2 separate regions of the Homo sapiens genome follow, and region 2 is linked to region 1. Evidence: fine-mapped expression QTL. A gene starts in region 1. The other region holds a variant in brackets. All regions are shown on one strand. Distances are between the middles of the regions.

Region 1 (13,235 bases):
TCCTTAGGCTACAGGTTCATTTTCCTGACGACAGCAGTCACAAACAGCGCTCGCCTTATGGAGGCCATGAGTGAGGTGAAAGCCTGATGTTTTTCCCGGCCAGTGTTGACATCTTCCCTGAACACATTCCTCAGTGAGATGCAGGCATCTGGCACCCAGCTGCTATAACCAAGTGTCCACCAACTACCTGCTAAGAGCCGGGAGCATGGAACGTGTTGGGATTTAGAGAACATTATCTGAGAAAAGAGTTCACTTCCTGCTCCCAGGATATTTCTCTTTTCTGTTTATGAAGTACAACCCATGCTGCTAAGATGCGAGCAGGAAGAGGCATCCTTTGCTAAATCCTGTTTGAATGTCATTGTAAATAAAGCCTCTGCTCTCAGATGTAATACGTTGGTCGTTCTGGACACGCACTTCCATCTTTATTAGTGAAAGCCCATTGGAGCTTGCTACAGGGGCTTCCTGTGCTTCTTGGCCTGGACTTTGTAGTGGCTCCAGGCCTGGTCTGGTTCTTCCCTGTAAAAATCACTCTACCACTCTGTACCTGAGTTTCCTCTACCATAAAATGAGGGAGATGGCTGAGGTGACCAGCAAGCACGTTTCCAGTTCTAAAATGTTGTGATTCATTACATTTTTGAGAAAATGACTTTGTTGTTTTAATTTAAGGAGGCACTTCAATTTTAAGCGTTTGTTTCTTATTGCAGAATGAAAGATTGTGTGCCATTAGAGCCATTTCAGGCATCAGCAAACAGTGCTCCTATAAATGTGCCAGCACCCTCCTCATTACTGATGCTAGTAGCCTTTCTCTCTCTCTTTACCTTTTAAAAATGATGAAATATAGGCCAGGTGCTGTGGCTCATGCCTGTAATCACTGCACTTTTGGAGGCCGAGGCAAGAGGAACGCTTGAACCCCGGAGTTTGAGACCAGCCTGGATAACATGGGAAGACCCCGTCTCTACAAAAAATAAAAAAATTAGCCGAGGGTGGTGGCACACACCTGTATTCCTAGCTACTGGGGAGGCTGAGGTGGGAGGATCCTTTGAGCCCAGGAGGTCGAGGCTGCAGTAAGCTGTGACCTTGTCTCAAAAAAAAAAAAAAAAAGAAGGAATTACAACCACCTATATTAGTGGCCTCTTTTCAGGCCTCTTCCAACTTGATCTCACTGATGACTATGCTTTCCTTGAAATTGTCTTATTCAGCTTCCATAATACCCTTTCTTTGTCCTCCCACAGTCTCTTAGGTTGTTCTTTGATTACTCCTCTCTGCTCATCCCATTTGCTGACATCTCCCCTCTCTCTGTCCTTTGTTGTCATCCACTTCCAGATCTCAAGCCTTCATCTCACTCCTTAGCGCCACACAAGTATTTCCTACCTGGTCATTCCACAGGCACTTCAAACTCAGCATGTACAAAATAAACTCATGAGTGGAAGCTCCTGTCCCTACTTGAATCCTTTAATCTGCTCTTCTTCCTGTATTCCCAAACTTTGTTCAAATGAGCAAAAAATTGTATTCTTGACCTCAGATTTTTTCTTTCTATGCCCCACCTTCAGCTGGTTCCCTTGTGCTATTGGTTCTTATTTCTAAATGTCTCTAGTTCATCTTCTCCTCACCATCCCTACGACAGAGGTCTTTATTGTCTCTTGCCTGGGTTTTTGCAAGAGTGTGCCTCCCAGCTGCTCATTCTTCCATCTGTTCCCCATTCCACAGTGCTGCCACTTACTAAAAGGAAGAAAGAAAATCAAAACCTGAGTTACTGGATCATCAAAAGTATTCTTCCTATAGAATAATGATCATTCTGGGCCCCGCACGGTGGCTCACACCTGTAATCCTAGCACTTTGGGAGGCCGAGGCAGGCAAATCACTTGAGGTCAGGAGTTTGAGACCAGCTTGGCCAGCATGGTGAAACTCTGTCTCTACTAAAATATAAAAATTAGCCAGCTGTGGAGGCGCGCACCTGTAGTCCCAGCTACTCATGAGGCTGAGGTGGGAGAATCGCTTGAACCCAGGAGGCAGAGGCTGCAGTGAACCGAGATCATGCCACTGGACTCCAGCCTGGGCAACAGAGCAAGACTCTGTCTCAAAAAATAAATAAATAAATAAGAATAATGATAATTCTGTATAAGAATATATTCCAAGGAAAAGGCATTCCTCAAGCATCTAGCTAGAATTTTGAGTGTTATGTCAAGCTAGTGTGCAAGACCAAAGACACTGCCAACAGGGCTGTTAATTCACAGAAAGAATAGGTGGCATCAGAAAAAGATTAAACAGTGGCAAAACATTGCACTTCCATCCAGTAGAAATATATGACCCTGTAATAGGATTTTTTTTTTTTTTTTTTTTTTTTTTTGAGAAAGGGTCTTGCTTTGTCGTCTAGGCTGGAGTGCAGTGGCGTGACCATGCCTCACTGCAGCCTTGACCTCCTGGGCTCAAGTGATCCTCCCACCTCAGCCTCCCAAGTAGCTGGAACTACAGGCTCATACCACCACACCTGGCTAATTTTTGTATTTTTTATAGAGACAGGGTTTTGCCACAGTGCCCAGGCTAAGGTCATATATTATAAACGCGTATTACACAGTGTTTTACATGCTGCGTTTATGCTCTGAATGGATATCTTTGCATCAGTTCTATGACTTTGTTAGCCTCAGCACCTCAGTGTAAAGGACAAGAGAGAAAAAATTGCCTTTTCTTTGGATACTTCATAATGCTGGTGCTAAGAACAAGTATGAAGATCACAAATTTGTGAAGCTTTCTGAAAAGCTCTCCTGTTAATTTAATCAACAAAGAATGCAAGTAAATTTTAAAAGTAGTGCTACCATCTACTCTATTAGTGGTGTCAATGTTAATCACAGAGTGCAAGGAAATTGAAAAAGTGGTGCCTGTCGCCCACTGTGTTGGTGCTGTGAATGTTTGGCATGCTGCTGACAAGTTAAAAAGAACATGGAAGCCGGGCGCGTTGGCTCACGCCTGTAATCCCAACACTTTGGGAGGCCGAGGCAGGCGGATCACCTGAGGTCAGGAGTTCAAGACCAGCCTGGCCAACATGGCAAAACCCCGTCTCTATTAAAAATACAAAAAAAAAAAGTATCCAGGCATGGTGGTGCGTGCCTGTAGTCCCAGCTACTCGGGAAGCTGAGGCACAAGAATTGCTTGAACCCAGGTAGCGGAGGTTGCAGTGAGCTGAGATTGGGCCACTGCACTACAGCCTGGGTGACAGAGCGAGACTCCGTCTCAATTAAAAAAAGTAAAAAGAACATTGAAAGCACTAATGAAGTTTTTCTGAAAATAAGAAAAATATGGTTCTGAAGGTGAAGCAAACAAGCATCCTTTACCTTTAGGGAAAAGGCATATGAAGAGGATTCACTTAAGTTACAGTTGGCCAATAAACACGAAAAATGTGCAATTTCAATTATAATCAAGTGCCAAACAAGGAAATGCCAGTATTATTATTTTACCTACAAAATGAGCAAAGATGTTTAGAAGTACAATAGAATTCAGCCCTGCTGAGGGTAACAAAAGGAGGGTACTTTTCCGGTGAGGCTTTGTGCAGAAGGCAAATTAATAAAGGGAGCATTCAGTAATTACACCTCTAGGAATCAGCCGTACGAAAATGCAGGATGCATTTATAAATACATACATACACAAAGATTTATGTATGAAGATATTCAGCCCAGCCTTATCTTTTAAATTATCATCTAAATATCAATAGCAGAATGGGCGAGATATCTACACACCAGGATTCATGCCACCATGCCACCATGAATCACTGGGAAAAAACGGTGATATATAAGCATTTAGGGATGTAACATGTTCATCGAGGAAAGGAGGCTACAAAAGTAATGTCTATTTTGAGTTTTAAATTTTTCATGTAACGATTTAGAAACTCATCTAATTTGATAACGTGACTTAGGCAAATCATTCAAATCTTTTTGCGTTTCCTCTGCAATGGCGATTGTGGAGGTTAAATGGGATAACTGGCGTTGAAACGTTCCAGGCCCATGAGCAGGACTCAATGTTCCTTCCCTTCCCCTTTAGTGTATGGCTTCTTACATCTGGGGAAGAGTCCCACCAAAGATCGATTCCAAGCTTCGCTTCTTGGATGAGCGAGGGAAACTAGGCGCTAACTTACCTATTCACCCCCGCGCCCGTTCCCGGCAGCCGGGACTCAGGGAAGCCAGGTAGCCGCGGTGCTCTCAACTCCCTCCCCGCCCGCGCACTTCGAATCCAAACTGCGCGGGGCGAGGCGGGGCGGCGCTCCGATGAGGTAGCTGGCTTGGGAGAGGAGTCCCTTGAGGCTGCCGCCAAGCCAGGGAAGCGGGAGGCGCAGGCCACGCCCGGCCACTCACAGACAGTGACGTCATCCCCCGCCGCCACTCCGGCGCTTCCCAGGCCCTGCTCGCGAGTCCCCACCCCGATTGCGCACCCGCGACTTCAGCCCGAGGGGCGGGGATTTTCTTGGAGCGACGGGACGCGACGCCAATCGCGACGAGGCTTCGCCCCGTGGCGCGGTTTGAAATTTTGCGGGGCTCAACGGCTCGCGGAGCGGCTACGCGGAGTGACATCGCCGGTGTTTGCGGGTGGTTGTTGCTCTCGGGGCCGTGTGGAGTAGGTCTGGACCTGGACTCACGGCTGCTTGGAGCGTCCGCCATGAGGAGAAGGTGCGGGTTGCGGGGAAATCGAGGGGACGCGGGAGGGAGCGACGCTCGTTTCGGCTGCGGGGCCTGTTCAGGGGTGCGGGACCCGTGCGGGGTCCCGGGCCTAGATCGTCACGGCAGTCGGCGCCGAGGGAGGCCGGGGGCGCTGAGGGGCAGGGTCTGGAGGCGGCGAGCCAGTGCGAGGGCCGCGGCGGTGAGACCTGACGCGCTGTCCGCCGGCGGCCGCAGGTGCCCGCAGGCTCAGACGCCCGGGTGGGAGCCGAGCGCCGGTGCCCGGACGCGGCAGGGTAGTCGAGGCCCGGGGCCCGGGGCGGCCTCCACCCAGGCGGTCAGCGCTGGCGCTCGGACCCCACCCTCCCCGCCCGCAGCGTCTCAGGTGCCGCTGCTTGGCGCAGATGACTCGTTGTAAACCTTCTGTGGTCGTGGCTTTTCTTTAAAGCTGTTAAGTTTATTTATCGTTGTTTTTCTTTGTTTTATTCTTTTTTTTTATTTTTGTGGAAACGCGGTCTATGTTGGCCAGGCTGGTCTCGAACTCCTGGCTTCAAGTAATCCTGCCACCTCGGCCTCCCAAAGTGTTGGGATTACAGGCGTGAGCCACCGTGCCCGGCCCGTTGTTTTTCTTTATATCTGGCCAGCGGTGTTAACGTTTTGTTTGAATTGGAAAGATAGCTTTGTTTCTTTGCAAGTTAAGAAACGGATTATGGAATTCTTTTCCGGTCGTTTTAATAACTTCCTAGGCGGTGTTGGGGAGGGACTGTCCGACTTGAAATCGGGACCAGACGGTGACACTGCCACTTACCAACCTTGTGACTTCCAAATATTAACTTTATTTTCTAAAAGTTGTGGATGCAGTTTTCTGATGATACAGCGTTAAATAATGTGTAGTTTTTGGTGGAACTGATTGTTCTAAGGCTTTGTAAGATTCTTCATTTCATGATCACTAATTCTGATCAGTCTTTTTAAAATGCTTGCCCTCAGAATAATGAGAATTGAGTGCCAACATGGTAAAACCTTGTCTTAACTAAAAATACAAAAATTATCTGGCCCTGGTGGCGCGCCTGTACCCCCAGCTTTTCAGGAGGCTGAGGCAGGAGAATCGCTTCAGCCTAGGAGGCAGAGGTTGCATGAGCCGACATCTCGACACTGCACTCCAGCCTAGGCGACAGAGTGAGACTACGTCTCAAAAAAAAAAAAAAAAGTCCATTAACAGTTTATGAATTATGTAGGCATCTCCTCTATCAAGGGATTGAATGAAGCAGGAGAAAACTTACCCTTTAATGTTGGTTCCAGGCTAATGGATATAATTAACTTTTTTTTTTTTTTTTTTTTTTTTTTTTTTGAGACGGGGTCTCACTCTGTCGCCCAGGCTGGAGTGTAGTGGCGAGATTGCTCACTGCAGCTTTGACCTCTGAGGCTCAAACGAAACTCTGGCCAGAATTAATTATGGTTATCGATCCCCGAAACAGGTTGAACTGGAGATCAACAAAGCTCCTTCTCTGGAATGCTAAGAAAAAATAGGGCAGTGGATCAGTGAAGGCTGCCTGAAGGTAGAAAATAATTTAAGGACCACTGTGAGATACCTTCCAGTCCAGTGATTTATGTTCAAGACTGGAAAAACTGACTCATTTTACAACCTTTTTGTCCTTGAGTGGTAGTCTTTGTATGCACTCTTGATTTTTTTCAGTGAATCTAAAAAAAAAACTCAGACTTGCTGCTTTTAGGGGATTATCTGAAACAATTTAGCCAGGGAGTATTTAAGTGTATCATGATAATTGTTCATAATGATTGCTCTGAAGCATCTTAAGATCATACAACTTTTTTGAAATGTCACGTTATTCATTCAAAAAGACTTCTTGGGCCTGGCACAGTGGCTCACACCTGTAATCCCAGCACTTTGGGAGGCCAAGGTGGGAGGATGACTTGAGCCCAGGAGTTCAAGACCAGCCTGGGCAACATAGCAAGACCCTGTCTCTATTTAAAAAATAATAATTTATACTAAAAAAGAAAAGAAAAATACTTCTTGAATGTTTGTTATATACAAGGAACCATTGCAAGTGTTGGGGATATAGCAGTGAGCAAAAGTGACATCCCTGCCCTCACAGAGTTTATATTCTAATAGCAAAAGAGGAGTGTAATAAATAAGTTAGTCTTAAATGGTGGTAAGTGCTATGTAGAGAAATCAAGAGGTTAAGAAGTACTGAAGGTGTAGGAAGGGGGGTTGTGGTTTTAAAGAGATGGGTCAGGAAAGGCCTCCCTGAGAAGGTGATCTCTGAGCAAAGACCTAAGAAGGAAAAGGGTGAAGCCATGCAGCATGGGGGAAAAGAGATCTAGGTAGAGGAATCAGCAAATCCAAGTGCCCTAAGGGGAGATAGCGCCTGGTATGTTCCAGAAAGAGCAAGGAGGTCGCTGTGACAGGAATAGAATGAGCACTGAGGTCAAAAGAAATGGCTTTCAGATGGAATGGGGCTCCATAGGTCTTTGGAAAGTCAGAGGCTTTTCCTTAGAGTGAGATGGCAAGTCGTTGGAGGGTTCTGAGTAGAAGATTAGGACTTGGGGCTCCTGTGTTGACAATGGACTTAAGGAGGCCAGCTTCGAAGCCGGGAGACCAGTTAAGAGGCCCCTGCCATACAGCAAGAAGTTGGTGGTGGTGACCTGGACCAGGGTGGGGGTGGTAGTGGTAGCAGCAGAGGTCAGGAGGAGTGAGATTCTGCCTGTCTTGTGTAGATAATGCTAATGGCGGGCATATAAGAAAGAAGTGTCAAGGATGATACAAGATTTAAGTTTAAAAAAAAAATTAAGTTCAGTACAATTTGAATGTTAGGAAGAGTGAGAAATGTTAGTTTTTAATTTGAAAATGATCCTCTTACAGGAAGTGTCTCTAACTAGAATAATAATAATGGGTGTTTGGTAATTCCAAACACCCATTTCCAACAGGCCAAATAAAATACGTTATATATTAGTAAAATTTTTATTTCTTTTTTTTTTTGGAGACAGTCTTGCTCTGTTGCCCAGGCTGGAGTGCAATGGCATGATCTCAGCTCACTGCAACCTCCGCCTCCTGGGTTCACCGGGTTCAAGTGATTCTCCTGCCTCAGCCTCCTGAGTATCTGGGATTACAGGCACCCACTACCACGCCCAGCTAATTTTTGTATTTCTAGTAGAGATGGGGTTTCACCATGTTGGCCAGGCTGGTCTCGAGCTCCTGATCTCAGGTGATCCGCCCGCCTTGGCCTCCCAAAGTGCTGGGATTGCACACGAGCCACCGCGCCCGGCCATAGTAAAAATCTGTAAGTTTTTCAATTAAGTCACAAATCAAAAACATTTCAGATTATGGGCCGGGCACAGTGGCTCACGCCTGTAATCCCAGCACTTTGGGAGGCCGAGGCGGTCGGATCACGAGGTCAGGAGTTTGAGACCAGCCTGACCAACATGGTGAAACCCCGTCTCTACTAAAAATACAAAAATTAGCCGGGCGTGGTGCCGTGTGCCTGTAGTCCCAGCTACTCAGGAGGCTGAGGCAGGAGAATCGCTTGATCCCAGAAGGCAGAGGTTGCAGTGAGCTGAGATCACACCATTGCACTCCGGCCTGGGTGCCAGACTGAGACTCTGTCTCAAAAAAAGAAAAAAAAAAGAAACCAAAAATGTTTTAGATTATGTGCCAAGATGTTTTTAATAACAGCTTTGAGGTATAATCCACATACCATACAATGTACTTAAATTGTATATTATAATTCAGTGATTTTTAGAATATTCAGAGTTGTGCAATCATCACTGCAATCAATTTTAGAACATTTTTATCACCCCTTTAAAATCCCATTAGCAGTCAATCCCCTTTCACCCCATGGTCCAAATTCTCCCCAGCCGCAACTACAAATCTACTTTTCGGCTAGGCAAGGTGGCGCACACCTATAATTCCAGCACTTTGGGAGCCCAAGGTGGGAGGACTACTTGAGCCCAGGAGTTCAAGAACAGCTTGGGCAACATAGAGAGACTCTACCTCTTAAAAAAAAAAAAAAAATTATTTATTTATTTATTTATTTATTTTATTTTTTATTTTATTTTATTTTATTTTTTGAGATGGAGTCTCACTCTGTCACCCAGGCTGGAGTGCAGTGACGTGATCTCAGGTCACTGCAACCTCCACCTCCCGGATTCAAGCAATTCTCCTGCCTCAGCCTCCCGAGTAGCTGAGATTACAGGTGCCCACCACCACACCCAGCTAATTTTTGTATTTTTAGTAGAGACGGGGTTTCACCATATTGGCCAGGCTGGTCTCAAACTCCTGACCTCGTGATCCGCCGGTCTTGGCACCCAAAGTGCTGGGATTACAGGAGTGATCCACCGCACCCGGCCTAAAAAAAAATTTTATTGTTTAAGTTAGCTGGGTGTGGTGGCTCACATCTGTAGTCCCAGCTACTCCGGAGGCTCAGGTGGGAGGATCACCTGAGCCTAGGAAGTTGGGGCTGCAGTGAGCCATGATCATGTTACTGCACTCCAGCCTAGGTGAAAGAGGGAGACCCTGTCTCAAAAAACCATACAAACCCCAAATCTACTTTTTACCTATTCTGGATATTTCATAAAAACGGAACCGTAGCTCTGGTCTTTTGTGACTTGCTTCTTTGACTTAACATAATGTTTTCAAGGTTTATTGCCAAATAATATTCCATTGTATGCCTATATACTACATTTTATTTACCCATTCATAAGTTGATGGCCATTTGTATTTTTTTTTTCACTTTTTGGCTATTATAAGTAATGCTGCTATAAACAGTTGTGTAGTTTTTGTATAAATGTGTTTTCATTTCTTTTGGGCAAATACCCAGTAATAAAATTGCTGAGTTGTATGAACTCTGTTAAACTGAGGGGCCGGGTGCAGTGGCTCATGTCTGTTATCCCAACACTTTGGGAGGCCGAGGTGGGAGGATTGCTTGGGCCCAGGAGTTCAAGACCAGCCTGAGCAACATGGCAAACCTTAAAAAAAAAAAAAAAAAAAAAAATTAGCCAAGCACGATGGCACGTCTATGGTCCCAGCTACTTGGGAGACTAAGGTAGGAGAATTGCTTGAGCCCAGGGCGTTGAGGCTGCGTTGAGCTATGATCACACCACTGCACTCCAGCCCAGGTGACAGTGAGGCCCTGTCTCAAAAAACAAAAAATCAATTGAGGAACTACCAGACTATTTTCCAAAGAGGCTGTACCGTCTTGCATGCCCACAAGCAGTGTCTGAGGGTTCTAGTTCCTCTAGATTCTCACCAATACTTTTTGCTATATATTTTTTTTTATTATACCATCCTGTTGGCTATGAAGTGGTTTTGATTTGCATTTCCCTAATGACTAATATTGAGCATCTTTTCATGTGCTTATTGGCCATTTTTATATCTTCTTTGGAGAAATGTCTATTCAGATTCTTTGCCCATTGTGCTAGATTTTTTTACTCAGAAAAACGATCACTTTACCTTCTAGATGTGTTACAGAGATAGGCAGCCCTGCTTGTAAACCTTCGTCAGGATCCAGAGTGCATAATACCTCTATTAGGTTAGGTAGGTTAGGAGCATAGGACCCTTTGGGAGGAATTCAGGGCCATTCATTTTATATCTATTGAACAACTACTGTGAGTTAGGGTGTGGTAAAATGAAGATGAATAAGATGTGGTGGTCCTTGCCCTTGAGTTTATGGTCTACTAGGGGGCTTGGGGGGAATGGTGAGTGACAAGTCCACAGCTCTCCAGAGGAGGTGGTGGCATATAGACGGAACTGAATGTACAAAGCGCGGTGGCATCAGAAAATGAGAGTTGCATGTGGTTTATTGAGGGGCATTGTTCAGGAAATGCCCGGGAAGTTCAGCTGGCCAGAGACCTGGGGAGTGTCAAGTGGGAGAGATTAGCAGACAGACTCGGAGAGAGGTTTTAGAAGGCCTTTCTACAGAAGGTGGTTGAACTATTTCCTGAGGGCAGTGGAGCCTTTGAAGGGGAGTAGTTAAGCGGGGATCTGATGGGATTTATTATGAACAACTAGCTGTTATGTGGAGATTGGCTGGGCAGGGGTAGGTCTGTCAGACTGAGGAGACTGGGATACTTAAGTAATGACCTTCAGAGCAGTGCCCCTGGCTGGCCTGTCTGGAAGCCAGGGTTTTGCATCCAGATCGAATATTGGCCACAGATTGGATCTTAAAAGTTATTTTTAATAAAATGGTAATATTAGGATTTTAACTTGTGCATTCTTTTGTCTTCAAAATGAAGTGCAAAAGGAGTGTTTGCCTGGGGAAGCTCTTTAGTTGGACTTTAGTTGAGATTATGTTAAATAAATGCCTTACTTACTGTTAACATTTCTCTTTTTTTCCTTTAAGTTCTGTTGGACTTGAACTGTTAACATTTCTAAAGTGAAGGGAGTACCGTAAATTCTTTTAAACGTTTGTCAGTATTTGGGTATTGGTATGGCCATCTGGTATAGGCAACAGGTATTTGTGTAGAAATGTTTCTTCAACAAGGACGGGCAACCTCTAAACTAGGATTTCGTGGCTGGAGATATTTTGGATGTGAATGTATTAACAGCTTTGGAGAGACACATTGTTAGAGATCCAGGCTGGTGACTTGTAGAACCACCGAAAGCTCTGAGACAGAAAGGGGCTAATGAAAGTCTCTAGTTGCAGTTGGGTGTGGATGGCACACAAAGACCTTAAGTGTTTAGGTGATTTGCTGCAGGCTTCTCGGCCGACTGGAAGCAGAGCACATCTAGATTGTAGTTTCTCTGGTGCCAGGGCAGTCTTAGTTGTCCTGTTATACCTAAGAAAAGGGAGAAAAATTTCTATTCTTTAAATGTTCTGTAAAGCAGACTAATTGTGATAATTTTTAAAGTAAGCTGTTCTTAAAAGATAAGATACAGAAGCCAGTTAAATTTGTATTTTAGATAAATAATTTTTTGTTAAAATAAGCTTTTGGTAATTGAAGAATAACATACATTCAGAAACGTACAGAAATCAAGTGTAAACTCAGTGAATTGTTCACAGTTGATGCACCTGTGTAAGCAGCAACCCAGAAGCCCTCTACCAGTCACTGCCTCCCCTGAGCCAAAAGAACTACTATCCTGACTTCTGAAAGCATTGATTAGTTTGGCCTGGTTTTGTTTTTGCTTTTTTTGTTTTCGTTTTTGAGATAGGGTGTTGCTTTGGAGTGCAGTGATCATAGCTCACTGCAGCCTCATCCTCTCAGGCTCAAGCAATCCTCCCACCTCAGCCTCCTGAGTAGCTGGGACTATAGGCATACGTCACCGTGCCCGGCTAATTTTTTTTTTTTTTTTTTTTTTAAGACGCAGAGTCTCACTATGTTGCCCAGAATGATCTGAAACTCCTGGGCTCAAACAGTTTTCCTGCCTCGGCCTTGCAAGGTGCTAGGAATACAGGCGTGAACTACCGTGCCTGGCCAGTTTTGCCTGTTTTTGAACTCTCTGTCAACGGAATCACATAGTGATACACATTTGCATATCTAGTGGCATTTGCTCAGCCTAAAGTGTTTTTTTTTTCCTTCCTCTTCCCCTTACAACTATTTTTTAGTTGTTTATTTTACTTCATTAAAAAAATGAAAAGATTTGAGGTATAATTCATACACAGTAAAACAGACTCGCTTTACAGGTAGTTTCAATTGTATACTGTTGTATAATCGCCATCAAGATCTAGAACTATTTCATCACCCCAAAAAAGTAAAATAAATAAATAAATAAAATAGAAATATAATAATTTGAGCTTTATCCATATCATGTGTAGTGTGTTCATTTTCTTTTTTGACAGTTTCGCTCTGTCGCCCAAGCTGGAGTACAGTGGTACAATCTTGGCTCACTGCAACCTTGGCTCACTGCAAACCCTGCCTCCCGGGTTCAAGCGATTCTCCTGCCTCAGCCGCCCCAGTAGCTGGGATTACAGGCGCACCACCACACCCAGCTAATTTTTTGTGTTTTTAGTAGAGACAGGGTTTCCCCATGTTGGCCAGGCTGGTCTCCTGACCTCAAGTGATCTGCTCCCCTCGGCCTCCCAGAGTCCTGGAATTACAGGTGTGAGCCACTGCACCCAGCCAGTTTGTTCATTTTCATTGCTGCATTAGTGCATTGTAGGAATGTACTATTCATTCTGTTGATAGACATCTAGGCTGTTTCTGTTTCCCTGCTATTATGAGTAGTGCTTCTCTAACCATTCTCATATATGTCTTTGGTGAACGTATGTGTTCATTTCTGCTAGGTATGTATGTAGAGGTAGAACTGCTGGGTTCAGCTTTAGTAGATAGACTGCCAACAGTTTTTAAAATAGTTGTACCAATTTACACCATGCCAGCAGCATATGAAAGTTCTCACTTTTCTATATACTCACCAACACTTAATGCTGTCTTTTTAACTTTAGCCATTCTTTGAGCTGCTAGTTGTAATTTAAGAAGAATAGGCCAGGCATGGTAGCTCACGCCTGTAATCCCAGCAATTTGGGAGGCCGAGGCAGGTGGATCACTTGAGGTCAGGAGTTCGAGACCAGCGTGGCCAACGTAGTGAAACCCCATCTCAATGGCTTTTTAACTTTAGCCATTCTTTGAGCTGCCGGTTGCAAT
Region 2 (16,863 bases), 27 kb after region 1:
ACCGAGATATTCCGTTCCCAGGGGCATGCAGGAGACGGAGGCCTTCCTCTTTTACGAATCCTCCTGAGCACAGACGACGGGTGTCGGGCTGGGGGATGGTCAGGTCTTTCCCTTCCCACGAGGCCATATCTCAGGCTGTCTCAGTGCGGGGAAATACCTGGACAATACCCAGGCTTTCTTGGGCAGAGGTCCCTGCGGCTTTCCGCAGTGCATCGTGCCCCTGGTTAATCGAGAATGGAGAATGCAGATGACTTTTACCGAGCATACTGCCTGTAAACATATTGTTAACAAGGCACATGCTGCACAGCCCTAGATCCCTTGAACCTTGATTCCATACAGCACATGTTTCTGTGAGCACAGGGTTGGGGCTAAAGTTGCAGATTAACAGCATCTCAAGGCAAAACAATTTTTCTTAGTACAGATCAAAATGGAGTTTATGTCTTCCTTTTCTACATAGACACAGTAACACTCTGATCTTTCTTTTCCCTACCTCTTGCCCTCTGTCCTGCAGAGATGGGAAAGGGTTTTTCTGTCCCTGCATGTCGAGTCCACTTGAGTGGATGGAAGGCTGAGTAGCGGCCTATAGTGACAGTCACGGAGTGGCCAGCTTTGGTGTCTGTGCTTGTTGCGTCCTTGCATTAAATTCGGGGTGCGGTGGGGGAATGATTGCCAACATTCTGGTAACGATGAAAAGAAAGCTTCAGCAGTTTTCCTGAAAACCTGTAATGCCATTTTCCCTGTAAGACCAAGAGATGGCCTTGTGGTACCATGTGAAAAACAACGTTCACGCTTACTAAATGGAAGATGTAATAATTCTTCATCTCTACAGCACAGTCAGAGAGGACTTTTTTTTTTTTTGAGATGGAGTTTCGCTCTTGTTGCCTAGGCTGGAGTGCAATGGGTGATCTCAGCTCACTACAGCCTCTGCCTCCTGGTTTCAAGCAATTCTCCTGCCTCAGCCTCCCAAGTAGCTGGGATTACAGGCATGTGCCACCACACCCGGCTAATATTGTATTTTTAGTAGAGACAGGGTTTCTCCATGTTGGCTAGGGTCTTGAATTCCTGACCTCAGGTGATCCACCCACCTTGACTTCCAAAGTGCTGGGATTACAGGCGTGAGCCACTGTGCCTGGCCTACTTTTTTCTTTTTGATAAATAAAAGAGTATTATTTCTTCTCTCTACTGCTATTTTATAACATTAAATTTATTATTTTTAGACAGTGTCTTGCTCTATCACCCACACCGGAGTGCAGTGGCGCCATCATGGCTCACTGCAGCTCAGCCTCCTGGGCTCAAGTGATTCTCTAACCTCAGCCTCCCATGTAGCTGAGACTTACGGGCACATGCCACCATACCCGGCTAATTTTGGGGTTTTTTTTTTTGTTGGTGGTGTTTTTTTTTTTTTTTTTTTGAGTTTCAGTAGAGATGAGGTCTCACTAAGTTGTCCAGGCTGGTCTCAAACTCCTGAGCTCAAGTGATCCTCCTGCCTCAGCCTCCCAAAGTGCTGGGATTACAGGCATGAGCCACTGTGCCTGGCCTAAAATGTGTTTTTTTTGGTTTTGTTTTTTTGAGACGGAGTCTCGCTCTGTTGCCCAGGCTGGAGTGCAGTGGCGCAATCTCAGCTCACTGCAACCTACACCTCCTGGGTTCAAGTGATTCTCGTGCCTCAGCCTCCTGAGTAGCTGGGACTACAGGCCCGCGCCACTATGCCCACCTAATTTTTGTATTTTTAGTAGAGATGGGGTTTCACTTTGTTGGCCAGGATGGTCTCAATCTCTTGACCTCAGAAGATCTGCCCGCCCCAGCCTCCCAAAGTGCTGGGATTACAGGCGTGAACCTCCACCTCCCGAGTAGCTGGGATTACAGGCATGTGCTACCACACCTAATTTTGTATTTTTAGTAGAGACGGGGTTTCTCCATGTTGGTCAGGCTGGTCTCATACTCCCGACCTCAGATGAGCCACCGTGCCCGGCCCCCTAGAATTTTTTTAATTAAAAAAAAAAAAAAAAAGTGTTGGCTGGGTACAGTGGCTCAAGCCTGTAATCCCACTACTTCGGGAAGCCAAGGTAGGGGGATTGCTTGAACTCAGGAGTTGGGAGACTAGGAAACATGTTGAAGCCCCATCTCTACTACAAATACAAAAATTAGCTGGTTGTGGTGGCACACGCCTGTGGTCCCAGCTACTCAGGAGGCTGGGGTGGGAGGATTGCTTGAGCCCAGGAGGTCGAGGCTGCAGTGAACCAAGATTGTACCACTGTACTCCAGCCTGGGTGACAGAGTGAGACCCCATCTCAAAAACATTTACAGCTCTTATCATTAGCATATAATAAGTTTTGACATATGTAGGTTTATACAATGAAACTGTCACCATAATTTAGATAATGAACATTTCATGGTCCCCAAAGTTTCCTAGTGCCTCTTTGTATTACCTCCCTCCTTCCCTGGCTCCTAGTTTGCCCCCAGCCTCTAGCTGTGGCGAGTAGGGATTTAGTCTTTAACTAACTATAGATTAGTTTTCATTTTGAAACATTTTACATAGAATCCCGCAGTACATATTCTTTTTTGTCTGGCTTCTTTCATTTAGTGTAGATTCATCTCTGTTGCTGTATGTATCAAAAGGTCACTCCTTTTTATTGTAGATCAATATTCATTCCACTGTATGAATTTACCACAGTTTGCTTGTCCACTTACCTGCTGATGGGTATTTGGCTGTTGCCAGCTTTTGGCTGCTGCAGGGAGCTGTTGTGAACATTTACGTCTAAGTCTTTGTATGGATCTATGCTTTCATTTCGTTTGGGTAGAAACATCTAAGAGTGGAATGGCTGGGTCATATGCTAGATGTCTTGTGCCACAGTGGTTGTACCATTGTACACTTCCATTTGCTGGATAGCAATAGGCTTTGAAAATTTTTCACAAGTTACTTCAAATCTATGCAGTATTAGACACAGCAGGCCCTTCACCATGTAAACCCGTCTTCCCTAGACTGCCTCCTCCCATAGTCATTTCTCTGTAGGGTAGACAGGTTGCTAGAAATGCTGAGGATGTTACTGCACATCAGTTACCCACGTGCTCTTCTCCCTAGCTGAACACTACCACCATGTCCAATGCTACGGCCAATAGTAGCATTCGGCCTATCTTTGGAGGGACAGTCTACCACTCCCCCGTGTCTCGACTTCCTCCTTCTGGCAGCAAGGTTAGTATGCCCTGTGTCTAAGCACATCCTCACATGCGTCCCTAGCCTGTTCACCCAGAGGCCCCACCTACTTGTTCTAGATTCTAAGATCCCTGGATTTGGTTCTTATTGAGATGCTGAGAGTTGACAGATATAAGCTAGCTCACCATTAAATAATGGTCCAAAACTAACGTGCAAAAAAAGAGAACAGTCACTCTGAGCCCCACTGGTACCATGGGAAGCACTGGGATGTGTCTGGGAAACTGAAGATCAGGCAGGGTCGCTGTAGACTCAATTCCAAGCCCAGTCCTCAGCTGGTATGGAGATAGGTCCCCTACATGTGGGTTCTAGCCCAGTGAAACCAGATCACTAGACATGCCAGGTACTCAGTAGAGATGTGGAAAGTATGTGGCAAAACACATTCAGTCTTTCAAATATTTTATTAGACTATGCTCAAGATAGGTGTTCTGTAAATCAAGAATTCATATTTAAAAAAAATTTTTTTCTAGAGACAGTGTTTTGCTATGTTGCCCAGGCTGGTCTCGAACATGTCGCCTCAAGCAATCCTCCTGCCTTGGCCTCCCAAAGTGTTGGGATTATAGGCATGAGCCACACCCAGCCCCATATATATATATATATATATATATATATATATATATATGTTTTTTTTTTAACTAAAAAGTATAGGATTATAGACATGAATATAAAGATAGTCTCAGCCTTTGACCAGTGCAGGTATTGTGTGTGCGTGTGCACGTTCATTAGAAGGATGATACATGGATCTCTTTCCTTTCTCTGCAGCCAGTCGCTGCTTCCACCTGTTCAGGGAAGAAAACACCCCGTACTGGCAGGCATGGAGCCAACAAGGAGAACCTGGAGCTCAACGGCAGCATCCTGAGTGGTGGGTACCCTGGCTCGGCCCCCCTCCAGCGCAACTTCAGCATTAATTCTGTTGCCAGCACCTATTCTGAGTTTGCGGTAATTCACCTTTTCTAATATCTACCAGTCTCTGGGGAGCACACAGTTGGGGCAGAGTGGGTATCTTCCCAGGGGCACCCAGGCTATTAGCTAGGGCAGCTACCTTGGAGGCTGAGAATCCCTTTCCTGCTTTGACCATGGCAGGGTGGGTGTGATTTAAGGGGGGGTTGTGTAGGAAGGAAGTTGGCAGCAGCAACTAGACATTTAACCTGGATCCTTCTGCTTAATACATACCATTCCCTGGCTGCAGGAGGCAACCCCTCTATCACTGTCCTGGTGCTCTCTTGGTGGAGTTCTTGGTAATTGTCTTAATTCTTTGTTCTTAGAAGGATCCGTCCCTCTCTGACAGTTCCACTGTTGGGCTTCAGGTCTGTATGGCAATCCCTGCATGTCCCTTTTCCAAACTGATCTGTCATCTGCTGGCTTCATTCATCTGGGCACAGGGCTACACTAACTAATAATCTCAGCAGTGTTACAAAGGAAGCAGGAATTCCTATCATGGACTCAAAAAAACACATCTGATTTACATTCACAACAGATTAATTAATAAAATTTGTTCAGACTTGAATTGGATTCTCAGCCCCTAAAGTCAGGCACAGTTTTAAATCACGTTTAACAGAAAACCTTGACCCTCCCCAATTGTGACATCAAAGGCCTGCAATAGCTGGAAAGAATAGAGGCCCCCAATCACATGGGGAAGGGAGCCCCAGCTGTGTGCTGCCTACAATGAGGCTCTTGGCCTGTGTGCTGATTATTTCCTGGAGTATATGCCTTCCTAACCCCTCAGGGCTTAACCGCCAGCTCTATTCTCAGCTAGCTAATGCTGATTTCCTCACCTTTGCCTCTTTCCATACATTGAGCTACTGAAGCATAGATGAAGCACTGGAAGCAAGTTTTTCCAGAATGCTCTTCACTTCCTAGTATCCTACTCTATATTTGCTAACACCTAACTACACTGCCTTTTACTTAATCTGTGATTTCTTCTCTCAATATTTTACTAGCAAGAGGAGAGGATGTTCCTCACCCTTGAGGGGATATTGAGTTAAACCCCTAGCCTGCCTCCCCTCTTAATTGCTGCAGGGATAGAGAATGGAACAGTTGGCCAAGGCTGCAGCTAGTTTTGATCACTGAAACTGGCTTCCTACTCCAGCATGTTTTTCAAATTACGTGGCTGGTGGTGCTTCTACCTTTAAAAGTGGGTGTGTGTCACTCTGGCTGATTGCTGGACAGAGGTCCAGCTTTCTCTTTTTCGCTTGTTCAACCAAGGCCCATTTTATCTGAGGCTTAAATGTACCTGCCTATCTGTGTGGCTAGTCCTAGGTAGGTTCGTCTGGTTTGGGTTGCTATGGCTGATAGACTCCACCAGGCAGCACCAAAGCCGGTAAACTAACCTCTGCTAATATCTGTCTTTCTCAATAGCCATTCATGCTTTATCTTTTGCTGCTCTACCATGTGCTCCAGCATGAGATCAAATCACCAGCAGGTTACAAGGCCTCAGCCCCAGGGATTGGTAGATATATGTTCTGGCCCATTGTTTTATAAAGGGCTCAAGAGACCAAAGCTTGTTGCCTACTTACCTTGACAACTCTAAAGTAGCTCTGTGAAGTAGAGTCATGCCTCGCTTAATGACAGGGATATGTTCTGAGAATGTGGGGCAATTTCATTGTGCACATATCAGAGTGTACTTAACAGTCCTAGACAGAACAGCCTACACACCTAAACTATATGGTATGGCGTTTTCCTCCTAGGCTACAAACCTGGGCAGCATGTTACAGAAAGAATACTGTAGGCAATTGTGGGTTTTTTTGATTCAGGCTATTCCTGGGATACTGTAGGCAATTGTAACGCAATGGTAAGTATTTGTGTATCTAAACATAGAAAAGGTACAGTAAAAATATGGTATAATCTTATGGGACCACCATAGTGTATGTGGCCTGTCGTTAACTGAAACATCATTATGCAGTGCATGACTGTATGAAGGATTTCTCTTCTGTGAGGTGTAACAGAATGGACTGGCTGAGGAAAAAGGGGTCACGGGCATGCGTGCACATGCACTCTGTCTGTGACTAATAGAATGGTGCTCAGAGTTCCTCACCTTTTACTCCTAACGCAGCCTATTGCAGGCTAGGGATCTCAGAGAAACTACCTTCAAGGGACCTTTTGCTGACACTTAACCAAACTTAGAAGGGTGGGCCATGTGTAAGAGAGGCAGTATGGCCACTGATGTTATTTATTTTTCAACAGCGAGAACTTTCAAAGGCTTCCAAATCTGATGCTACTTCTGGAATCCTCAATTCAACCAACATCCAGTCCTGAGAAGCCCTGATCAGTCAACCAGCTGTGGCTTCCTGTGCCTAGACTGGACCTAATTATATGGGGGTGACTTTAGTTTTTCTTCAGCTTAGGCGTGCTTGAAACCTTGGCCAGGTTCCATGACCATGGGCCTAACTTAAAGATGTGAATGAGTGTTACAGTTGAAAGCCCATCATAGGTTTAGTGGTCCTAGGAGACTTGGTTTTGACTTATATACATGAAAAGTTTATGGCAAGAAGTGCAAATTTTAGCATATGGGGCCTGACTTCTCTACCACATAATTCTACTTGCTGAAGCATGATCAAAGCTTGTTTTATTTCACCACTGTAGGAAAATGATTGACTATGCCCATCCCTGGGGGTAATTTTGGCATGTATACCTGTAACTAGTAATTAACATCTTTTTTGTTTAGGCATGTTCAATTAATGCTGTAGCTATCATAGCTTTGCTCTTACCTGAAGCCTTGTCCCCACCACACAGGACAGCCTTCCTCCTGAAGAGAATGTCTTTGTGTGTCCGAAGTTGAGATGGCCTGCCCTACTGCCAAAGAGGTGACAGGAAGGCTGGGAGCAGCTTTGTTAAATTGTGTTCAGTTCTGTTACACAGTGCATTGCCCTTTGTTGGGGGTATGCATGTATGAACACACATGCTTGTCGGAACGCTTTCTCGGCGTTTGTCCCTTGGCTCTCATCTCCCCCATTCCTGTGCCTACTTTGCCTGAGTTCTTCTACCCCCGCAGTTGCCAGCCACATTGGGAGTCTGTTTGTTCCAATGGGTTGAGCTGTCTTTGTCGTGGAGATCTGGAACTTTGCACATGTCACTACTGGGGAGGTGTTCCTGCTCTAGCTTCCACGATGAGGCGCCCTCTTTACCTATCCTCTCAATCACTACTCTTCTTGAAGCACTATTATTTATTCTTCCGCTGTCTGCCTGCAGCAGTACTACTGTCAACATAGTGTAAATGGTTCTCAAAAGCTTACCAGTGTGGACTTGGTGTTAGCCACGCTGTTTACTCATACAGTACGTGTCCTGTTTTTAAAATATACAATTATTCTTAAAAATAAATTAAAATCTGTATACTTACATTTCAAAAAGATATAGTGTGGTGTTTCCTTTTTTTCCCCAGTCACTTTTTAGTTGGTTGGTCT[G/T]TGTGTGAAAAACAAACACAAAAAACTAAAAGGACCTCCTGGAAATTTTTAGTCAGGAGTGTGATTTTTTTTTTTGAGTCTCACTCTGTCGCCCAGGCTGGAGTACAGTGGCACTATCTTGGTTCAGTGCAACTTCCACCTCCCAGGTTCAAGCGATTCTCCTGCCTCAGCCTCCCGATTTGCTGGGATTACAGGCACGCACCATCACACCTGGCTAATTTTTGTATTTTTAGTAGAGACAGGCTTTCACCATGTTGGCCAGGCTGGTCTTGAACTCCTGACCTCAGATGATCTGCCTGCCTCCCAAAGTGCTGGGATGACAGGCATGAGCCACAGCACCCGGCCGAGTGTGATTTTTAAAATATTCTCTGGTACATTTCTAAATTAAGAATATCTCTTACTCTAATTTTTTGGTGAGAAATATAAAACCTAACCCCTGATGTGTAGAGAGCAAAGGGAGTCCTAGGATGCTTCTGGCTTCAATGCCGTTTGTCTCAATATGGGGAGGCTGCCCAACTTCAACAGCGTTACTGAAGGAGGATGGACATAAACTGCACACATGTGAAGCGTAAGAGAAAAACCATCGCCACAGTCCAGTTAACCAAGTCTCTCTACCCCAGCAGTTCTTCCCACCCCTTTCTCACTCCTCCTTCCCAGCCTCACCCTGCCGAGCAACCACTGATTTTTTTTTTTTTTTTTTTTTTTTTTTTTGAGATGGAGTCTCGCTCTTGCCAGGCTGGAGTGCAGTGGCACAATCTCAGCTCACTGCAATCTCTGCCTCCCAGGTTCAAGGGATTCTCCTGCCTCAGCCTCCCGCGTAGCTGGGACTGCAGGCACGTGCCATCACGCCTGGTAAATTTTTGTATTTTTGGTACAGACAGACAGGGTTTCACTGTATTAGCTAGGATGGTCTCGATCTCCTGACCTCATGATCCGCCCACCTCGGCCTCCCAAAGTGCTAGGACTACAGGCATGAGCCACTGTACCTGGCCCACCGATTTGTTACTACAGATTAGTTTGCGTTTTCTACAGTTCGATGTAAGTAGAATCATACAGTATATATTTTTTTGGTCTGGTTCTTTCACTACTTTCAGATTTACCCATATTGTTGCTTATATCCATAATTCTTTTTTTTTTTTTTTTTTTTTTTTTTTTTTTTTTTTGCTTAGTATTCCATGGTGTTGATATACCAGTTTATTCGCCTGTTAGGTTTATTTTTCACATTTGGCTTTTCTCCAGTTTTTGGCTATTAAAAACAAGGCTGTTATAAACATTCATGTACAAGTCTTTGTATGGATATATTTTTTTTTCTGGATAAATACCTAGGAGTGAAATGGCTGGATCACATCTATGGTATGTGTACACTTAACTTTTTAAGAAATGCCAAACTGGGCCGGGCATGGTGGCTCACGCCTGTAATCCCAGCACTTTGGGAGGCTAAGGTGGGCAGATCACGAGGTCAGGAGTTCGAGACCAGCCTGGCCAACATGGTGAAACCCCATCTCTACTAAAAATACAAAAATTAGCTGGCTGTGGTGGCACACACCTGTAATCTCAGCTATTCAGGAGGCTGAGGAAGGAGAATTCCTTGAACTCAGGAGGCGGAAGTGGCAGTGAGCTGAGATTGCACCACTGCACTCTAGCCTGGGCAACAGAGCAAGACTCCATCTTAAAAAAGAAGAAATGCCAAACTGTTTTCCAAAGCAGTTGTACCATTTTACATTCCTACCAGTAATGTATGAAGGTTCCAGTTTCTCCACATCTTCACCAACAGTTGGTATGTTCAGCCTTTATGTAATTCTAGTTATTCTGTGTATGGAGTGGTGTCTCACTATGGTTTTCATTTACAACTCCCTAATGACTAATGATGTAGAGCATCTTCTCATATGCTCACTTGCTATCCTTCTGTCGTCTTTGTTGACTTTTGTCCATTTTAAAAAATGGCTTGGCCAGGCATGATGGCTCATGCCTATAATCCTAGTACTTTGGGAGGCTAAGGCAAGTGGATCGCTTCAGCCCAGCAGTTTGAGACCAGCCTGGGCAATATGCAACAACCCCATCTCTACTAAAAATACAAAAAACTAGCCAGATGTGGTGGCACGTGCCTGTAGCCCCAGCTACCCGGGAGGATGGCTTAAGCCCAGAAGGTGGAGGCTGTACTCCAGCCTGGACAACAGAGAGACCCTGTCCAAAAAAAAAAAAAAAAACCCACAATGAAATACCACTTCACACCCATTAGGATGGCTGTTAACCAGAAATAGAAAACAAGTGTGGACGCGGATGTGGAGAAATTAGGATTTGTGTGCACTTCCAGTGGGGATGTAAAATGATGCAGCCTCTGTGGGAAACAGGGCAGTTCCTCAAAAAAATTTAGAATTACCACACAATCCAGCAATTCCACTCTGGGTATATATCCAAAAGAACTGAAAGCAGAGACTCAAGAGAGTTGTACACCCATGTTCCCAGCAACATTATTGACTGTAGTGAACAACTCAGATATCCACCAATGCACGGATGAATAAAACGCAGTGTATACATACAACAGAATCTTAGCCTTTAAAAGGCAGGAAGTCTAGATACATAAGCTACATCATGGATGAACTTGGAGGACATGCTGCTAAGTGAGATAAGCCAGTCATAAAAAGACAAATACTATGGGATTTCACTTACATGAGGCACTTACAGTATCATAGGAACAGAAGGTTAGGACTGTGGTTGCCTGGGGCTGGGGAAGGGGAGACTGACGAGTTAAGTGTTTAATGCACAGAGTTTCAGCATAGAATGATGAAAAAGTTCTGGAAATGCATAGGGGTGACGGTTGCACAACAGTGAATGCATATAATGTCACTGAACTATGTACTTAAAATGGTTAAAAACAATTTTTGTTTTTTATTGAACATAAATTTTATGTTCAGTATATTTTACCACAATAAAAAAGACCCCATGGGTGGGAAACATTTGCTAAACCACAGACACACACATGCACAAATAGAATTTAACTATAAAGAAAACTACTGATAAGCTTATTTTATCAAAATAAGTTGATACTTGTAAAGCACTTTGAGCCTTACCTGGCATGGAGTAAGCATCACCTAAGTATTAAAATTGGTAATACCAAGAGAGACTGAAACAAACTACATTGTAGCAGAAGATACTCTGAATACTAACTCTCAAAAGACTTGTATCTGAAATATCCAAAAGAAAAATCACTAAGGAAAATACAGAACATTTTAAAAGGCCAGAAAACTTGAACAGGCACTTGACAACAGAAAAACTCCAAGTGGCCAATAAACATATGAACTCTTCGCCTCAAGCAATCTCCCTGCTTAGCCTCCCAAAGTGCTGGGACTACAGGTGTGAGCCACCATGCCCAGCCATCCAAAACAAATGAAAAGCTACTCAACCTCATCAGTATCCAGGGAAATGCCAATTAAAACCAGTGTGCATCTACCTGACATTTTAGCCACAGTAGACCCCACCCTGCTGGGGGCAACAGTTATCTAGTAAAATTAAAGGTATCTCCTGACTTAGCAATTCAACTCAATGTTCTGCAAAGGAACTTGTGCACATGTGCAGAAGACTGCACAAAGAATTATGTGGAATGACCAAAATCAGAAACAATAAAAATGACCATCAACAAGGCTGTATCACTTGAGGTATTATTCATACAACAGAACACCATATAGCATTAAAAATGAACTCCAGGACCCAACAAGGATGGATTATACAATGCTGAGTGACAAAAACGACACAAAAGCACATACACAGGATTCCATTTATCTAACACTCAAAAGCAAACACAACTATGTCGTATAAGGCTGCATACAAGAATGGTAAAATTCAAACGAAAGCAGGGAAATGACTGACAGAAGACGATGACCTGGAATGTGCCCCAATCTCAGCTGCACATCAAATGTACCTGGGATGAGGTGGGTGGAGCTTTGAATCTACCACTATCCAGGCCACACACCTAGAAGCTCTGGTTTCATTGTTTCATTGATTTCATTGTTTTGATTGATGCTGACCTTAGGCAGCAGAGTTTTCAATGCTCTCCAGGTGTTTCTAAAGTGCAGACAAGTTTAGGACCGTGCTTGAGGGTGAAGGGCAGGACTGTGATGGGGAGGGGCAAATATGGGGCCCTTGGGGTGCAGGCAATGGTTTTCCTTGACCTGAATGGGGGTCTCACAGGTGTTGCATATACATATACGTACACATGTCAGCTCTTCCCTTTCTCCACAGCATACACGTAGGTGTTCCACGGCCCACAGGTGACAGCCTTTACTTGGAGTTGCTTATCTACAAAGTATTCCACACGGCGAGGCCGATCCAAGCTGGTGGTGTCCTCGTGGCCCAGCTGTCCATATTTACCTAAAGTGAAATCAGCCCCTTTGCCATCGTCTCCACTGGGTCTTGCTGCTGCTTTCCCTCCAGGAAGGGGCCCAGACTATCAAATGAAGTGCTGGGATTATGCCCCACTGCTCTGTGAATCCAAGAGACCCAGAGCCAGGCAACCTTGGGGATCCCCAAGAGGCTAGTGGCGACCAGCCACTCCAGGCAAGACGCTCCTCCAGACTTCCCTGCTATCCAAGCTAAGATGTTCAGAGCACACACTTCCATCGAATCTTTTTCTCCACCCAGTGTCACATCCACAAAAAGCTGCTTTGTAAGTGCTGGTTGGATACTCCCTTAAGACAGTCTTTCAGAGAGGTAGGCGGGTGGTACCGATATCCTCTCCATGTCTCCCCTGTCTGGCCTCGGACTGAGCGCGCCTATGTCTGTTCCAACCCCAGGGAGGGAGCAGTCCTGTTCCTCCCAGTGACCTGGCCGAGGCCCCTGCTTCCTCCAGTCTTGTTGGCTTTGTCACCTGCCCTGTACTCCCAGGTCTTTCTTCTCCTTGGTTTCAGGGTCACAAAAACAATCCTTTTACTTACCCCAGCCCCAGGTGTAGAGCTCCCCTGTTCCTGAAAGCAAAAGGACAATCGATAGTTGTCACTACGGTTCTTTGGCAAGGCATCTGTCCAGCCCAGCTTGGCACAGCCCACAGCTAGCATATTACAATCCTCATGAGATCTGCCTGGCATGGAACAACATATTCTCTTAACAACTGGCTGATCACACGTGGCATGGCAGAGGATCCCGAGGGAAAAAGTGGCGGATCTTCCTGTGTGCCATGCTACCGAGCGCCGCAGTCTTCCATGCCAGACTGGACAGTCCCTGCTGTCAGAGGCGGCGGCGGGCAGGGAATGTGTCTGTGGCCGTGCAGGGAGGACAGAAAGCATCAGCCTCCCACCAGAAGGAAGAAACTTCTGGGCCTGACAGGCTGGGGAACTACTGTGAAACAACAAGGGGGTTGGGGCTTATCCACTGAGCAAGGTAGCTGCTCTGTATGAGCCACAGAAGCCTTAAGACAGAAGTTTTTCCGTCGACCACACCCCCTTCCGTAGGCACCAGCTCGAGTGGAGCAGAGTGCCTCCCAGCCCCACTCACGTGTCACCACAGCTGTGTGCCGGGATCCACAGCTGGCCTTGACTGCATCTGAGCCCATGGGGAGATCCAGTAATGCCGGGAAGGGCTGGACAGCTATGAAGGGGGCAGGGGCTCCATCCTCAGCCCCACCCGTTCTCTTCACCTGAGAACCATCTTCATTCAGTTCTGTGGCTTCAGAATGATAATAATGATGTGAACACCAACTGAGCCCTGAGCTAAATCTTATTCATGCAGTCACTTATTGCCACAACAGCTCTGAGGTACACGACTGCCTAGCTCCAAAGCTGGTGCTCCCAACCCCTACATTCTGCAGGCAGGGCTGGCACTGCTGCACAAGTGTGTTGTGCCAAGACCGGCATCAGCCTTGCCAATGCTCCCTCCCATAAGGGGCTCACATGCTCCATCTGAGCAGTGTAGCTCTGAGGCCAGCATACAGCCAGGAGTTAGGAATGACAGCCACATCCTGGGGAGACGGCTGTGGGAGCCGAGATGACCCTCACCTTCCCTTGCGACAGTCTCTCCATCCTCTGCCAGGTTCCTGGTGGGCAGGGCCAGCTGCCCTGATTCATTCCAGCCCCAGATATAAATATCCCCAGTCTCTGAAAGAGATCAAGGGGACACATGAAACAGACTGTGAAGCCCCTGCATCCATCCAAACTCTCCTCCCCATCGCATCCGCTCCTGGGGACAACTAAAGCCTGCCCTGCCCAAGGTAGCACTCCAGGCCAAGGCGCTTCCCCTCGGGCCCCAGGGGCTTGTCTTAGGTTCACATCCCCTCAATGCCTTCAGATCACCCTTTAAGTCCCTTACTGGACCTTCTACTTCCATTCTTATGCTGCCAAATAGCCCCTCATTTCAGAAATGTATCCCTAGAAGTACCGCAGTGGTCTCCCTTTCAAAACCACTGGGCCAGGGCCAGGTGCATTGGTTCATGCCTGTAACCCAGCACTTTGGGAGGCTGAGATGGGTAGATCACTTGAGCTCAAAAGTTCGAGACTAGCCTCAGCAATATGGCAAAATCCCTGTCTCTAAATAAGTAAATAAAACAACCACTGGGCCGGCCTGTGCCCCTTTTTCAACTGCACCCACAGCCGGTCCTGATGAAAGCCACGTGCAGCTCTCCCCTTCCTGGCCTCCCACAACACTGGAGCTTTTTGGTTGGAACAGCTGCCTAATTCTAAAAATTTCTAACAATAGCTGCTTTATGAAGTGCTTAATCCATGCTGATGTTTCACATGCTTTTCAAATATAATCACTTAATTCTCACAATAGCCCTACAGGTGGTTTTATGACAATATCACCATTTACGCAGGATCCCTATTTTATTCACAACTGAGGCACAGAGGGGGTTAAGTACCAGGCCCGAGGTCCCAGGGCCCGAGCAATGATCTGAAACTAGGAAGTCTGGTGGGATGTGTCCGTGCTTCAGCCTCTACACTAAACTTAAGGCCTCAAACTCCTTCTGGACCTTGAGTGCAGGGCGTCCCACTGGGCTGTTTCCAGCCCTCTGGTCTCTCCAGCCCAAGGTTGGGGTTTTTTTTTTTTGTTTTTTTTTTTTTTTTAGACAGACAGAGTCTCACTCTGTCACTCAGACTGGAGTGCAGTGGTGTGATCTTGGCTCACTGCAACCTCCACTCACGCGTGGCTCAAGTGATCCTCCAGCCTCAGCCTCCCGAGTAGCTGGGACCACAGGCACGAGCCGCCACGCCCAGCTCATTTTTATATTTTTTGTACAAAGACGAGGTTTTGCCACGTTGGCGAGGCTCAGCCCAGGGTTTCCTGAGCTTGGCAACCAGCCCAGGCCCATTCCATGAGAATATGGTGTGGAGGAAGGCACTGGTAGCTTTTCTTTTTTTTTTTTTTTTTTTTTTGAGACTGAGTCTCGCTCTGTCGCCCAGGCTGGAGTGCAGTGGCACGATCTCGGCTCACTGCAACCTCTGCTTCTCAGGTTCAAACGATTCTCCTGCCTCAGCCTCCCGAGTAGCCAGGACTACAGGCGCACACCACTGCACCCAGCTAATTTTTGTATTTTTTTTTAGAGACGGGGTTTCACCATGTTGGTCAGGCTGATCTCGAACTCCTGACCTCGTGATCCACTCACCTCGGCCTCCCAAAGTGCTGGGATTACAGGCATGAGCCACTACGCCCGGCCCCCTGGCATTGGTAATTTTTTAAGCTTCCAGGTGATCTACGTAGCAGCCAGAATGAGAGCCCCAGACACAGACAAAGATCATCTGTTCCCAGCCTCACCCTCTCTGCATGGGCTCTAACAGCCTAGGAAGGAGCTACACCTGGATCACCAAGTGAAACTCCTCACTCTGGCCAGCTGTGGCACCACCACAGGGACACACTCATCACCATCCTGGTGCCTGGTGGGCACCCCAGTGTCCACCCTGTGCCACACATCATGGCCCCCTAGGCAACTGCAGCGTTTCTGCGTTTTCCTTGGCTCAGCTGCCCCCTCACACTCCATACTCCCTCGGCAGCACTGTTAAGAGACAGTCCTGGCTGGGAGCAGGTGGGGAGAGGAGGGGAGGGGCAGTGAGACCAGTAACAGAGAAGCTAGGAACAAATGCCAGAGTCCAGGCGTGAGTGGGCCATGGTGCAGGCAGAGGAGGCCGAGGGTGAGAGGCATTTAGGAGTCATAACTGACTGGGCGATGGATGGATGAATTTGGAAGGAGGCCTGGGTAGGCCCCCACCCAAACTGGAAAACGAGGAGGAAGGTTTGCACAAGATCATGAGCTCGTCTGGAGAAGCACTAAGTCACTCACCACTCACACACACAGAATGCCAGCCCCCCGCGGCCACCTCAGCCATGACTAGGCCCTGCAACGCCTCCAACAGCCGTGGCTCCAGCTCTGCCTCCAGGGTCCCATGGCCCAGCTGTCCATGCCTGAGCAAGGGAGACCGTCGTCAGCTACAGTCGCATTAAGGGGTCCCGCTCCGCTTGCTTCTCCAATCAGCAGCCCTCACCTGCCCCCGCCTCCGCTCACCTGCCCCCGCCCCAGGAGAACACCTGGCCAGCAGCGTCCAGCAGCAACGCGTGCTCGGCGCCCAGCTCCAGCTGGCGTGCCCGCAGCTCCGGAGCCAGAGGCCGGTAGAAGGGCGCCCGCGGGCTCACGTAGGCACGGGCGCAGGGCAGCAGGGGTAGCCTCCCAGCCTGGGCCTCACCGGCCGGATCGTCTTCCCCTTCGGCCTCGGGCACCACATTCTGGGCCCACAATGGCTCCCCACGCAGCGCCGATTCGGCCGCCCAGACCTGCAGTAACGCCTCCGGCCCCGGCCCGGCGCGCAGCACCGCGAGGAGCCCCTCCGAGGCCCACGCGTCCTTGCAGCGGCCCGCCGCGCCGCTGGCTGAGCCCGACAGCTCCAAGCGGCCTCCACCTGCGGGGCGGATTGGAGCAGGGTGGCCAGAATGGAGGCGGCGGGGATGGGGGGAGCGGGGTGTTCCTGGGAAGGGGTCGAATTGGGGACCAACCCAGAATGTGGGGCTGGCGGCCTGAACGGGGGAGACAAACTGGACTGGCCACAGCGGTGCGGGGAGGCGACTGGGGAGCGCGGCTGGAATAAGTGGGGACGGGGCGGGGAGTGCTCACGGGTCACGAAAGCGGTGTAGCTCCAGCTCGCGCTCACGCGGCAGATGTCGACGCCCGCCCGCAGCGGACTGGGGCTGTGCACCTGGCGCCCGCGTCCGGAGCCCAGCTCCTGCCCGAAGCCGCAGAAACCGAAGCCGAACCAGGCCCCCGGCCGCTCCTCCGCCATG

Evidence for each region.
Region 2: its variant is fine-mapped to the expression of PRC1 in thyroid (GTEx, PIP 0.96).

The regions. Positions count from the first base shown.
Region 1 is chr15:90,985,827-90,999,061 of GRCh38, reverse strand. PRC1 (protein regulator of cytokinesis 1) reads left to right here and starts at 4,527. Exons shown (of 15, transcript NM_003981.4): 1 at 4,527-4,655. The coding sequence starts at 4,645. It overlaps LOC124903556 (a long non-coding RNA gene), which reads right to left and starts at 4,283. Exons shown (of 2, transcript XR_007064759.1): 1 at 4,127-4,283; 2 at 1,437-1,719. It overlaps VPS33B (VPS33B late endosome and lysosome associated), which reads left to right. Exons shown (of 23, transcript NM_018668.5): 23 at 8-389. The coding sequence ends at 87. PRC1-AS1 (PRC1 antisense RNA 1) reads right to left here. Exons shown (of 4, transcript NR_051984.1): 4 at 10,438-11,432. RefSeq lists enhancers at 3,487-4,353, 4,354-5,221 and a silencer at 4,771-4,990.
Region 2 is chr15:90,956,734-90,973,596 of GRCh38, reverse strand. RCCD1 (RCC1 domain containing 1) reads right to left here. Exons shown (of 8, transcript NM_001017919.2): 2 at 16,697-16,863; 3 at 16,094-16,484; 4 at 15,872-15,993; 5 at 13,599-13,697; 6 at 13,099-13,269; 7 at 12,543-12,572; 8 at 10,472-11,979. The coding sequence starts at 16,862. The coding sequence ends at 11,828. It overlaps PRC1 (protein regulator of cytokinesis 1), which reads left to right. Exons shown (of 15, transcript NM_003981.4): 12 at 3,083-3,193; 13 at 3,974-4,150; 14 at 4,477-4,518; 15 at 6,395-7,557. The coding sequence ends at 6,466. PRC1-AS1 (PRC1 antisense RNA 1) reads right to left here and starts at 7,228. Exons shown (of 4, transcript NR_051984.1): 1 at 6,919-7,228. RefSeq lists silencers at 16,587-16,636, 16,757-16,863. The variant G/T (reference allele first, on the strand shown) is at 7,612.